Linked DNA regions of Homo sapiens: region 2 is linked to region 1. Evidence: fine-mapped expression QTL. Tissue or cell type: whole blood. Region 1 holds a variant in brackets; the other region holds the start of a gene. All regions are shown on one strand. Distances are between the middles of the regions.

Evidence for each region. PIP is the estimated chance that this variant, and not a neighbour inherited with it, causes the effect.
Region 2: it holds the start of TNFRSF9, and the variant in region 1 is fine-mapped to the expression of TNFRSF9 in whole blood (TOPMed, PIP above 0.99).

Annotation. Positions count from the first base shown.
Region 1 is chr1:8,052,448-8,057,650 of GRCh38, forward strand. All of the region lies in intron 2 of ERRFI1-DT (ERRFI1 divergent transcript), which reads left to right. It also overlaps the pseudogene RPL7AP18. Among named protein-coding and RNA genes, the nearest start is that of ERRFI1-DT, 29 kb to the left of the region's middle. The variant G/A (reference allele first, on the strand shown) is at 2,935.
Region 2 is chr1:7,937,989-7,943,120 of GRCh38, forward strand. It overlaps TNFRSF9 (TNF receptor superfamily member 9), which reads right to left and starts at 2,851. Exons shown (of 8, transcript NM_001561.6): 1 at 2,796-2,851; 2 at 1,907-2,090; 3 at 733-840; 4 at 205-342. The coding sequence starts at 2,006. RefSeq lists a silencer at 4,555-4,694.

The DNA of each region.
Region 1 (5,203 bases):
AGCTGGGACCATAGGCGCATGCCACCACGCTTGGCTAATTTTTGAATTTTTTTTTTTTTTTGAGATGGAGTCTCGCTCTGTCGCCCAGGCTGGAGTGCAGTGGCACGATCTTGGCTCATTGCAACCTCTGCCTTCCAGGTTCAAGCAATTCTCCTGTCTCAGCCTCTGGTGTAGCTGGGACTACAGGCACTGGCCACCAGGCCCGGCTAATTTTTGTATTTTTAATAGAGATGTGGTTTCACCATATTGGTCAGGCTGGTCTCAAACTCCTGACCTCAGGTGATCCACCCACCTCAGCCTCCCAAAGTGCTGGGATTTCAGGCGTGAGCCACCGCACCCGGCCAATTTTTTATTTTTTTGTACAGACGAGGTCTCACTATGTTGCCCAGGCTGATCTTGAACTCCTGAGCTCAAGCAATCCTCCTGCCTCAGCCTCCCAAAGTGCTGGGATTACAGGCATGAGCCACGGCACCCAGCCCAAAAAAGTGCTTTAAGTAGTTTCATGGAGGCATAATTTACATACCATAAGATCCACTTGTTTTAAATCCACAATTCAAAGATTTTTAAATAAACTTGTAAAGTTGTGCAAATATCATCACAATCCAGTTGGAGAACATATCACCCCAAAAGATCCCCCATATCTGCATACATAATGAATTTTTTTAAGTTTCATTGAGGTATCTTCTTGTGGTTTTTATAAAAGATATTTTCTGGCTGGGCACTGTAATTCTAGCACTTTGGGAGGCCGAGATGGGTAGATCACCTGAGGTCAGGAGTTCGAGACCAGCCTGGCCAACATGGTGAAATCCCGTCTCTACCAAAACCACAAAAAATTAGCCAGGCGTGGTGTCATGCACCTGTAGTCCCAGCTACTCGGGAGGCTGAGGCAGGAGAATTGCTTGAACCCAGAAGGCAGAGGTTGCAGCGAGCTGAGATTGCACCACTGCACTCCAGCCTGGGTAACAGAACAGAGTGGGACTCCGTCTCAAAAAAAAAAAAAAAAAAAAAAAAAAGGTATTTTCTGCCTTGGGACCTTATTTGCTGGTCTCTTTGCCTCCAGCTTCTCATGGCTTACTTTGGCCCTTCAGTAATCTGCTCAAAACTTCCTTCTTCAAAGAAGCCTCTTCTGACCACCCTGTCTAAAATGGAAACTCTCATCTGCTTACACTTCATCCTGATCTTATGTCTGTTTGTGTGGTGTTGCTTTCCCCAGAAAGGACCATGAGAGCAGGAACTTTGTCTTGCATCTGATCATTACATCCCCAGGGCCTAGAACGGTGCCTGGGGTACAGAGGTGCCCAATAAATATGTGTTTAGTCAATGCAAGAATGAAGATAATTGGAGCATCGTCAATTTCCTTATCACTTTATTGCCAGTCTTTGCTTCTTTTAATTCACAATGTTTCTTTGAGTGAATGTCTTAGGGCTGCTTTAAGAATGTAAATTGGGTGGTTATTTTGACTTTTATGTCTGCTTTTCAATATTTCTACTTTTAATTTATTTCACTTACCTAAACCTCGATCTTCCTTCCAGGAAAGATAAATTTGGTTCATTCTAATCCTCTTTCTCCTCCAAATTGTGGTTTAGTAGTCTAACCTTCTTTTTGAAATTCTACACGTTTTATAGTTTTTACACTCTGTTTACTGATTGATAACTTGCTATTACTGGTTTTGCTTTTTATTGAGTTAATCTACTTATCTGTCTGCTTTCACATACTTTAAGCTGCCTATTTTATTCTGATTGTGATCAAAGCTGTCACTAGTGTTTATTGATTTTTTTCTGTTCTTTCTCTCTATTTTTACATTTCTACAACATGAAATTTGTACTCACTAGTCTTTCTTTTTTTTTTTTCTTGGCAGAGTCTCACTCTGTTGCTCAGGCTGGAGTGCAGTGACGTGATCTCAGCTTCTTGTGCTCAAGTGATCCTCCCACCTTAGCCTCCAAAGTAGCTGTGACCACTGGCGTGCCACCATACCCACCTAATTTTTGTATTTTTGGTAGAGATGACATTTTGCATTTTGCCATGTTGCCCAGGCTGGTCTCAAACTCCTGAGCTCTAGCAATTCACCTGCCTCAGCCTCCCAAAATGCTGGAACTACAGGTGTGAGCCATCGTGCCTGGCTTGTAGTCACTAATCTTTACGGATTATTTCACCTTTCTAGTTCTGAAAATCGTCTCCATTCACCTTTCAGAAATGTGAGCTTGGTACACTGTACCTGTGGGACTAGTAACCTTTCTCTTAGCTCTGAGGTCAAATCACTTTTATTTGGATATGTTTTCTGGGTTTTCTTTCTAAGTTTTTGTTTGAAAACTTAAGAAATGGATGTATGAATGTTTAGAGCCTTGGTTTCTGTTGTTTTCTTTTGTTCTTGTTTTTAAGAGTGTTCCTGAGAAAATTCCTATGCAGCCTAATAATGATACTAGGATTTCATTGAGAAAATTTTAATTTTAATTTTAGAAAAGTTACTTTTTCCGGTCGGATGCAGTGGCTTATGCCTGTAATCCCAGCACTTTGGGAGGCCGAGGCCGGTGGATCACTTGAGATCAGGAATTCCAGACCAGCCTGGCCAACATGGCGAAATCCCTTCTCTACTAAAAATACAAAAATCAGCTGGGTGTAGTGGTGGGTGCCTGTAGTCCCAGCTACTCAGGAGGCTGAGGCAGGAGAATCGCTTGAACCCAGGAGGTGGAGGTTGCAATCAGCCAAGATCACCCCATTGCATTCCAGCCTAGTTTCCACATTGCTGATCTTTCCTGATTACCCTGGTACCTTTGTTTAGCACAAATGGGTTTCTTGGATTCATTCTCTAAGTCTTGAATATCTCTTGCCTTGTTATAATCTATTTGTTTAATTTACAGGAGAGGGATTTGCTGTATGATAAGCACAGTTAATCCTTTGCTCTTGGCATCTATTTTGCCATTTTCAGCTTTTGTT[G/A]GGGTACAATTAAAAATTATTTACAGGTTTAGCAGAGTGTTTTTTCTTTTCTTTTTTCTTTTCTTTTCTTTTTTTTTTTTTTTTTTTGAGATGGAGTCTCGCTCTGTTGCCCAGGCTGGAGTGCAGTGGCATGATCTTGGCTCACTGCAACCTGTGCCTCCCAGACTGAAGAGATTCTCATGCTTCACCCTCCGGAGTAGCTGGGACTATAGGCTCCCGCTACCACACCTGGCTAATTTTTATATTTTTAGTAGAGATGGGGTTTCACCATGTTGCCAGGCTGGTCTCGAACTCCGGACCTCAAGTGATCCTGCCTCGGCCTCCCAAAGTGCTGGGATTACAGGTGTGAGCCACCGTGCCCGACCTCTTTTTCTTTTCTTCCTGTTTTTTTTTTTTTTTTTTTTTTGAGACAGGGTCTCCCTGTCACCCAGGCTGGAGTGCAGTGGTGTCATCATGGGTCACTGCAGCCTTGACCTCCTGAGCTCAGGCAATCCTCCCACCTCAGCCTCCCTAGTAGCTGGGACTACAGGCATGCACCACCATGCCCAGCTAATTAAAAAAAAATTTTTTTAGAGACAAGGTCTCACTGTGTTTTCCAGGCTGGTCTCGAACTCCTGGGCTCAAGTGATCTACCCCCCTCAACCTCCCAAAGTGCTGGGATTATAGGCGTGCACCACCACACCTGGCCTGGTGTTTTTTTTTCTATATTGAAAGGCATTGCTTTTGAAGTTATCTATTTTCTTTCATATCCTCAAGTAATCTGACATAACCCATTTGTGATGACTCATGAACCCAGAGAAGATGTGGCAATTTTACTGTTCTATGTATCTTCTGTTCTTTCTGGCTTGCTCTTACACTTGTAATGCATTTATGCATTCCACAAATACGTATTAAAAGCCTATTCCATTCCAGGTGCTTTTCTGGGTACTCAGCTCCATCAATGAGCAAATGAAGTTCCTGCTCTTAGGGCACTTACATTCTAGAGACGGATAATGTATCTGTTTATATACAAGACAGTAAGTAGACAAATGATTAAGGGAAAAAGGTGCAGTAAAGTTAGAAGACAGAGTGGGGCTAAATGGCCTATTTTATTTTATTTTTTTGAGATGGAGTCTCACTCTCTCACCCAGACTGGAGTGCAGTGGCACGATCTCGGCTCACTGCAGCATTTGCATCCCGGGTTCCAGTTATTCTCCTGCCTCAGCCTCCCAGGTAGCTGGGATTACAGGCACGCACCACCATGCCTGGCTAATTTTTGTATTTTTAGTAGAGATGGAGTTTCACCATGTTGGCTAGGCTGGTCTTGAACTCCTGGACCTCAGGTGATCCTTCTGCCTTGGCCTCCCAACAGTGCTGGGATTACAGGCATGAGGCGCTGTGCCTGGCCTGTAAAGGGGCTATTTTAGAGGGATGGTCACTGATATGGGGCTATTGAGCAGAGATCTGAATGAGGGTGAACAATGAGAAGACACAGGGGAAGAGTGTTTGAGGCCATGCAAAGGGCCTGAGGCAAGAGAGTGCTTCACTTGTTCAAGTGGAGCAAGGCTGGCCTTAGAGTGAGGGCCAGTGCTAGGAGATGCATTCAGAAAGGTGGACCCTGTCGAGCCACTGTCCCCTTGATTGTGATTTGCCAGCCACCTGGCCTTGTCACATTCCTGGAACACACCTGTCCTTGCTGTCTTGTGCCTTTTCTCTTTCTGTTCTCTAGAGTGCCAGTGTTCTTTCCGTGGCTGTTCTCATGGGTGCCTTCTCATTGTGCTTTTTACAGCAGTATATTTGTTTACATCTTTTTTTTTTTGGAAGGAAAATCTGTATTATTTTAATTATTTTTATATACTGAAAACTCAACAGTGTACATTTAATCCAGCTTGGTGGCAAGTTCTTTAGCCTTTGCCTTTTTGAGATTGGTAATGCGGGCCATAGACTTGGAAGCCAGGACATTGCCTCCCCAGTGACAGCAGATCTCGTCGTGTCTGTCTTTGTAATTGGTCCTGATAGCTTCCACCAGCTTAGCCAAAGCTCCTTTGTCTTCCGAGTTAACCCATGCGAAGGCAACAGTGGTGCAGGTCTTCCTGTAGACTAGACGTCCCAGTCTTGCCTTCCCCTTGATAGTGCAGTAAGGGACCCCCATTTTACGACACAGGGCAGGCAGGAAGACAACAGCTCGATGGGATCCATGTCGTGTGCAGTGATCACCAGCTGAGACTTTTTGTTCTCCACCAAGGTGGTGACGTTGTTAACTCCTGCTTGAAGGACATTGAAGGACTGG
Region 2 (5,132 bases), 110 kb before region 1:
ATTTCAAATTATTTCCATTTATGAAGAAATAACGGAAATATTTTATTAATTGAAATATTTTATTAATTAAAATATGATATATCATATACTCCCTTGTTACTTTAAGGTTCTACAAATCTGTTTGTTTATTTTCAAAGGATCAAGATCAAAGCTAAGTTTGTCTATGTCACAAAACTACACTAGATCAAAGAAACGCAAACGTACCTTTTTTTGTCAGTTCTTGACCTTGTTTACAATCCTGTTCACACATGCTGCATCCTGCCCCCAGGCAGTGAAACCCTGGAGTGCAGTCACACTCTGCATTGCTGGTGGAGGAACACTCCTTCCTGGTCCTGAAAACACCTACAAAGTCCCCCCAGCCCCCAACATTTTATTACACTTGACCTCCAAATCCAGGAAGCGAATTTATGCTCTGCAGTAAAAATCATGCTCACTCTACTTATAGTGTTCCCAGTAATTTTAAAGTTTACTTTTAAATCTCCATAAAGACATTTTTACATTTAGGTAAGTAAAAACTTCTCTCTTGTCAAATGAATGTTTCCTCTAATATTTAGAAAGCTCAGTCCACAAATAATTGCTGTCACTGGATATTATTGTCCTAGACCTGCTGGTTGGCAGAAGAATCAGTCTTTGACACTTGAGATTTTCAAAAGAGAGCAGTTAGTAAATGGGAAAGAAAAGCTTATCTTCCCAACTATCTTCTAGAAGAAGAAAATATCTTTGAACTCATACCTTTACACTGCCTGCATATGTCACAGGTCCTTTGTCCACCTGCGCTGGAGAAACTATTTGGAGGACAGGGACTGCAAATCTGATTCCTGTTATTATCACAGAATGTACCTAAGAAAGGCAGACAATAGTGGTACACGTTTGACAATGGGCAATCGTCACCCAAGGCATTCCGAAGTTTACAATAAAATAAGATTATAAAAGAATGATGAGTTTTCTAGATGCCACAGTGGTGGACATTAGTTTGATTGACTTCCTAAAACAATACATTTGCAAGATTATTCTTTGTGTAATCACAGAATTAGAAATAACAAAATACAGGCCAGGTGCAGTGGCTCACGCCTGTAATCACAGCACTTTGGGAGGCCGAAGCGGGCAGATCACCTGAGGTCAGCAGTTCAAGACCAGCTTGGCCAACATGGTGAAATCCTGTCTCTACTAAAAATACAAAAATTAGCCAGGCGCAGTGGTGCACACCTGTAATCCCAGCTACTCGGGAGGCTGAGGCAGGAGAATTGCTTGAACCTGGGAGGCCAAGGTTGCAGTGAGCTGAGATCGTGCCACTGCACTCCAGCCTGGGCGACAGAGTGAGACTGTGTCTCAAAAAAAAAAAAAAAAACATACACACACAAAAAAAACAAAAAAACCAGATATTGTAACAAATAAATCAACAGAAAGAAAATACTTTATCTATTGAATAAAACAAAATGATTATCTTGATTGATGTAGGAGATGAATATGACTGGATCCAGGAGGACATCAATGTCCTACACTAAAATTTAAATGCGACTGACCGTCCCCACTCTGTTAAGCCCTTTACTACGCGCTTACTCGCTGCTATGCCCCCAGTCGGAGCACAAAGCCCTACACACAAAACTAACATTTATTGAAGTCTTGCCTTGTGCCATGCACTGTTCTAAGCCCTTCATTTGATCCTCCCAGCCATCCTATAAAACAGGTTCTCTTATTATCCCCAGATGAGAAAGTCAAGGCACAAGAGGTTGAATGACTTTGCTGTGTTCACACAGCTAGGTTGTAGCATCCAATAAACATTTGTAAATGAATGAATTTTCATTTTCCTTTCCTTAAAAGGGAGCTCGTTAGCCCTGACTACTAGACTAACTGAACCATACTTCCAACAGAGCAGATCAAATGCACATGATAACTGGGTACTCACCAGCTGGGCAGTTACTACAAGGATCCTGCAATGATCTTGTCCTCTCAAAGTTGAGGACCAGCAACAGAGTGGCTACTATGTTGTAACAGCTGTTTCCCATGATGAAATCTGGCACAGGTATGATACTAGCAAAGCTGATTCCAAGAGAATTTTAATCAAATTAGCTGGTCTCACAAATGTCACTCTGCAAAAGATAAACATTTCCAAGGAAAGGTGGTTTCTCCTTTCAAAATTATCTATATTGCAATCATTACTTATACAATTCTATAAGAGGATAACTCAGGGTTTTTCAGGAACAATTAATGATGCAATATTACGGAAAAGTAGCAGATTCATAGAAACCACTAGGACAAGGCAGGCGTGATTAAACACACAGCTTTGTGCCGGTTTGCCAAAGTTTGAGGGTGCATTTTCCATCATGTTCTGCCAAAATGCAGAAATAACAATAGCAAGAACTTTTGGGGACTTTCATAGGTACTTTGCAGTACCAACCAGCAATAATGCCAATTACTTATTGCCCCTGAAATAAACTCCTTACAAAGAGAATCTGTCAGGGGCATCAGACAATTCAGTTCAAGAAGAAGCTATCACATAATCACTCTTCCCCCTTTAGCTGAACACCTAACTACTAACATGTGGAAAGACCTCCCTGTTCAACTCACTAACACATTTTCTTAAACAGAGACATGTTTTGAGATGTGAAGTTTGTATGGTAACAAAACTAAGGAGTGAAAAACTCTTCAGGCTAAGTTATTGATGTTTATTTAAAGGGCTATTGAAGAGAAGTTATTACATATTAGGAGAAAAAGTCTAGAAATGGGCAAAGGGAGCAAAAGTTCCAATCTCACCCCTTCTCAGTGCCCCCACCCACTCCCCCAGATGGACAGACCTTGAGATCTCAGGGCTGCCGGAGAACTTTCCACTCCTTGGTCTTCAGGCTTCTGCAGCTCGAGAGGACTTCAGGTCAAACACAGGAGTGCGGTGACTCAGCCAGGGGCGGGGTCTCATGGGAAATTCCCACCACAGCTCTGTGACAGCCCTATGAAATCATTCATTTCATATCTGCTGACCCCGAAATCCCCTAGAGCCCCCGTCCCTGCCTGATAATGGCACTTCAAATTGCTTCTTGGAAGCAGCTCTCTACTGTCAGGATGTGTCACAGATGACGCTGGGAAAACGATTTTGTCCCTTAAGATAGCTCTCCAGGACAAAGCATTTAGCATGTCCTTAAAACACTGGATTTGAGATTAGAGGAATGAAACCAAATTCAAAACAGTGATCAGCATTTTGCCATATGCGGTCCCCTAACTCCATAGTCACTGTAATGCAATAGCTGCCATTACTTGAGCACAGCCGATGTGCCAGGCATCAGAGATGCACTGCGGTGAATACACACTATCCTCGAAAGAACCCTAGAACTTGGTATGACTGCTGTTGTTACTGGGAGAACACTATGCAAATGAGGAAAGTGGGGCTGCAAGTGGAATTAGAGCGTCAACAGGACAGGGAGCAGGCAGGGTTGGAACCCAGGTCGGCCTGGTCCCTTATCGTGCTCCTCCGGGCATGGGTGACAGAGGGAGGAAGGAGGGAGAAATGGAGGGAAATGGAAACAGGGGAAGCACAGCAGTCACACGGCAAGTCAATGACCAGGACGTGGTTCGGTGAAGCTGAGAGCTAGGAGGGATTTTTAGAAAACCATGATTTCAATTTTTCTTTAAAAAAAAAAAAAGGAGAAAGAGACCAGGCGCGGTGACTCATGCCTGTAATCCCAACACTTGGGAGGCCGAGGTGGATGGATCATCTGAGGTCAGGAGTTTGACACTAGACTGTCCAACATGGCAAAAACCTGTCTCTACTAAAATTACAAAAATTAGCAGGGAATGGTGGCGGTGGACCCCTTTAATCCCAGCTACTGAGGCTGAGGCAGGAGAATCGCTTGAACCTGGGAAGTAGAGGTTGCAGTGAGCCGAGATTGCGCCACTGCACTCCAGCCACAAAAAAAAAAAAAAAAAGAAGAAGAAGAAGAAGAAGAGGAAGAGGAGGGCAGAGAAAGCAGAAGGAAAAAAAAGTACAGTAAGAGGAGAGGAGGAGTATAAGGAGAAAGAAGAGGGAGAAGAGGAGGAGGAGGAGAAAAATAAAGAGAAAAGGAGGAGGAGGAGGAAGAAGAAAAGAACAGAAAGAGAAGGGGAAGAGGAAGAGGAGAAGGAAGAATGAGGAGGAGAAAGAATGAGACGGAAGAATGAGGAGAAGGAAGAGTGAGGAGGAGAAAGAATGAGAAGGAAGAATGAGGAGAAGGAAAAAGGGGTGTTTCTGGAGGAGGAGGAGGAGGAGGAGGAGGAGGAGGAGGCGGCTGCTCCAGGCTGTAGATGAACCTGCCCATCATTGAGCAGCTGGAGAACCTCAGGAAAACCAGGGGAACTGTGGCTGGGGCAGGCGTGGGCTGGGGAAGGACATCGAGAGTAGCTTGGGCCGTCCTCCTGCCCCGCGGTTCCCAGCACGAGCTCTCCCGACAGAAGAGGAAAACGCGGCGCGACTCGGTTGGGGGACAGCGCTGAGATGCGGACAGATGCGGACGTTCTGCCGCCGCCTGCAGGCAGAGGGACTCGGAGATCAGGCCGCAGAAGCAGAAGAAGGCAGACGGGAAGGAGGAGGAAGGAAAGGAGCCTTGTGGCTTCGTGTCCGACCCTCCCGCCCTTGGCCCGCGTGCCTGGAGCCAGCCCCACCGCGCCCGCGTTTCCTCCCGCGGGACTTCCCTTGGCCCTGGGTCTGCAGCGGGTCCTGCCGAGCTTCCTTCCCTCAGGCAGCCTCTCTCTCCCTGGCCACTCTCGGGGGTGAGGGGGGTTACCGGTTCCCAGTGATTTTTATTCCCTTTGCTCTCTCACGCCTCATGTTCCCCATTCTCCTGCCTCAGTTGTGTAATCTTGAGCAAATTTCTCAACCTCCCTAACTCTGTTTTTGCAAGCACATCTTACAGGTGCAGTGACACCATACATCTTCCTCGTGAGTGAGGATTAAATGAGACGATGAGCATGAAATACTTAGCTCAATGCTTGGCACATAGTTCTCAAGAAAGTAGGAATTGCTATGATCAGACTTACTGGTTTGAAATGTTCCTTCCCTGCCTCCCACACTGACCATCAGTAGAGCCACCACAGGGCAAGTCATGACAGAAAAGGAGAAAAACGCATGAGCTGCCTGCAAAATGTGTTCCCAAATACTGACGGTC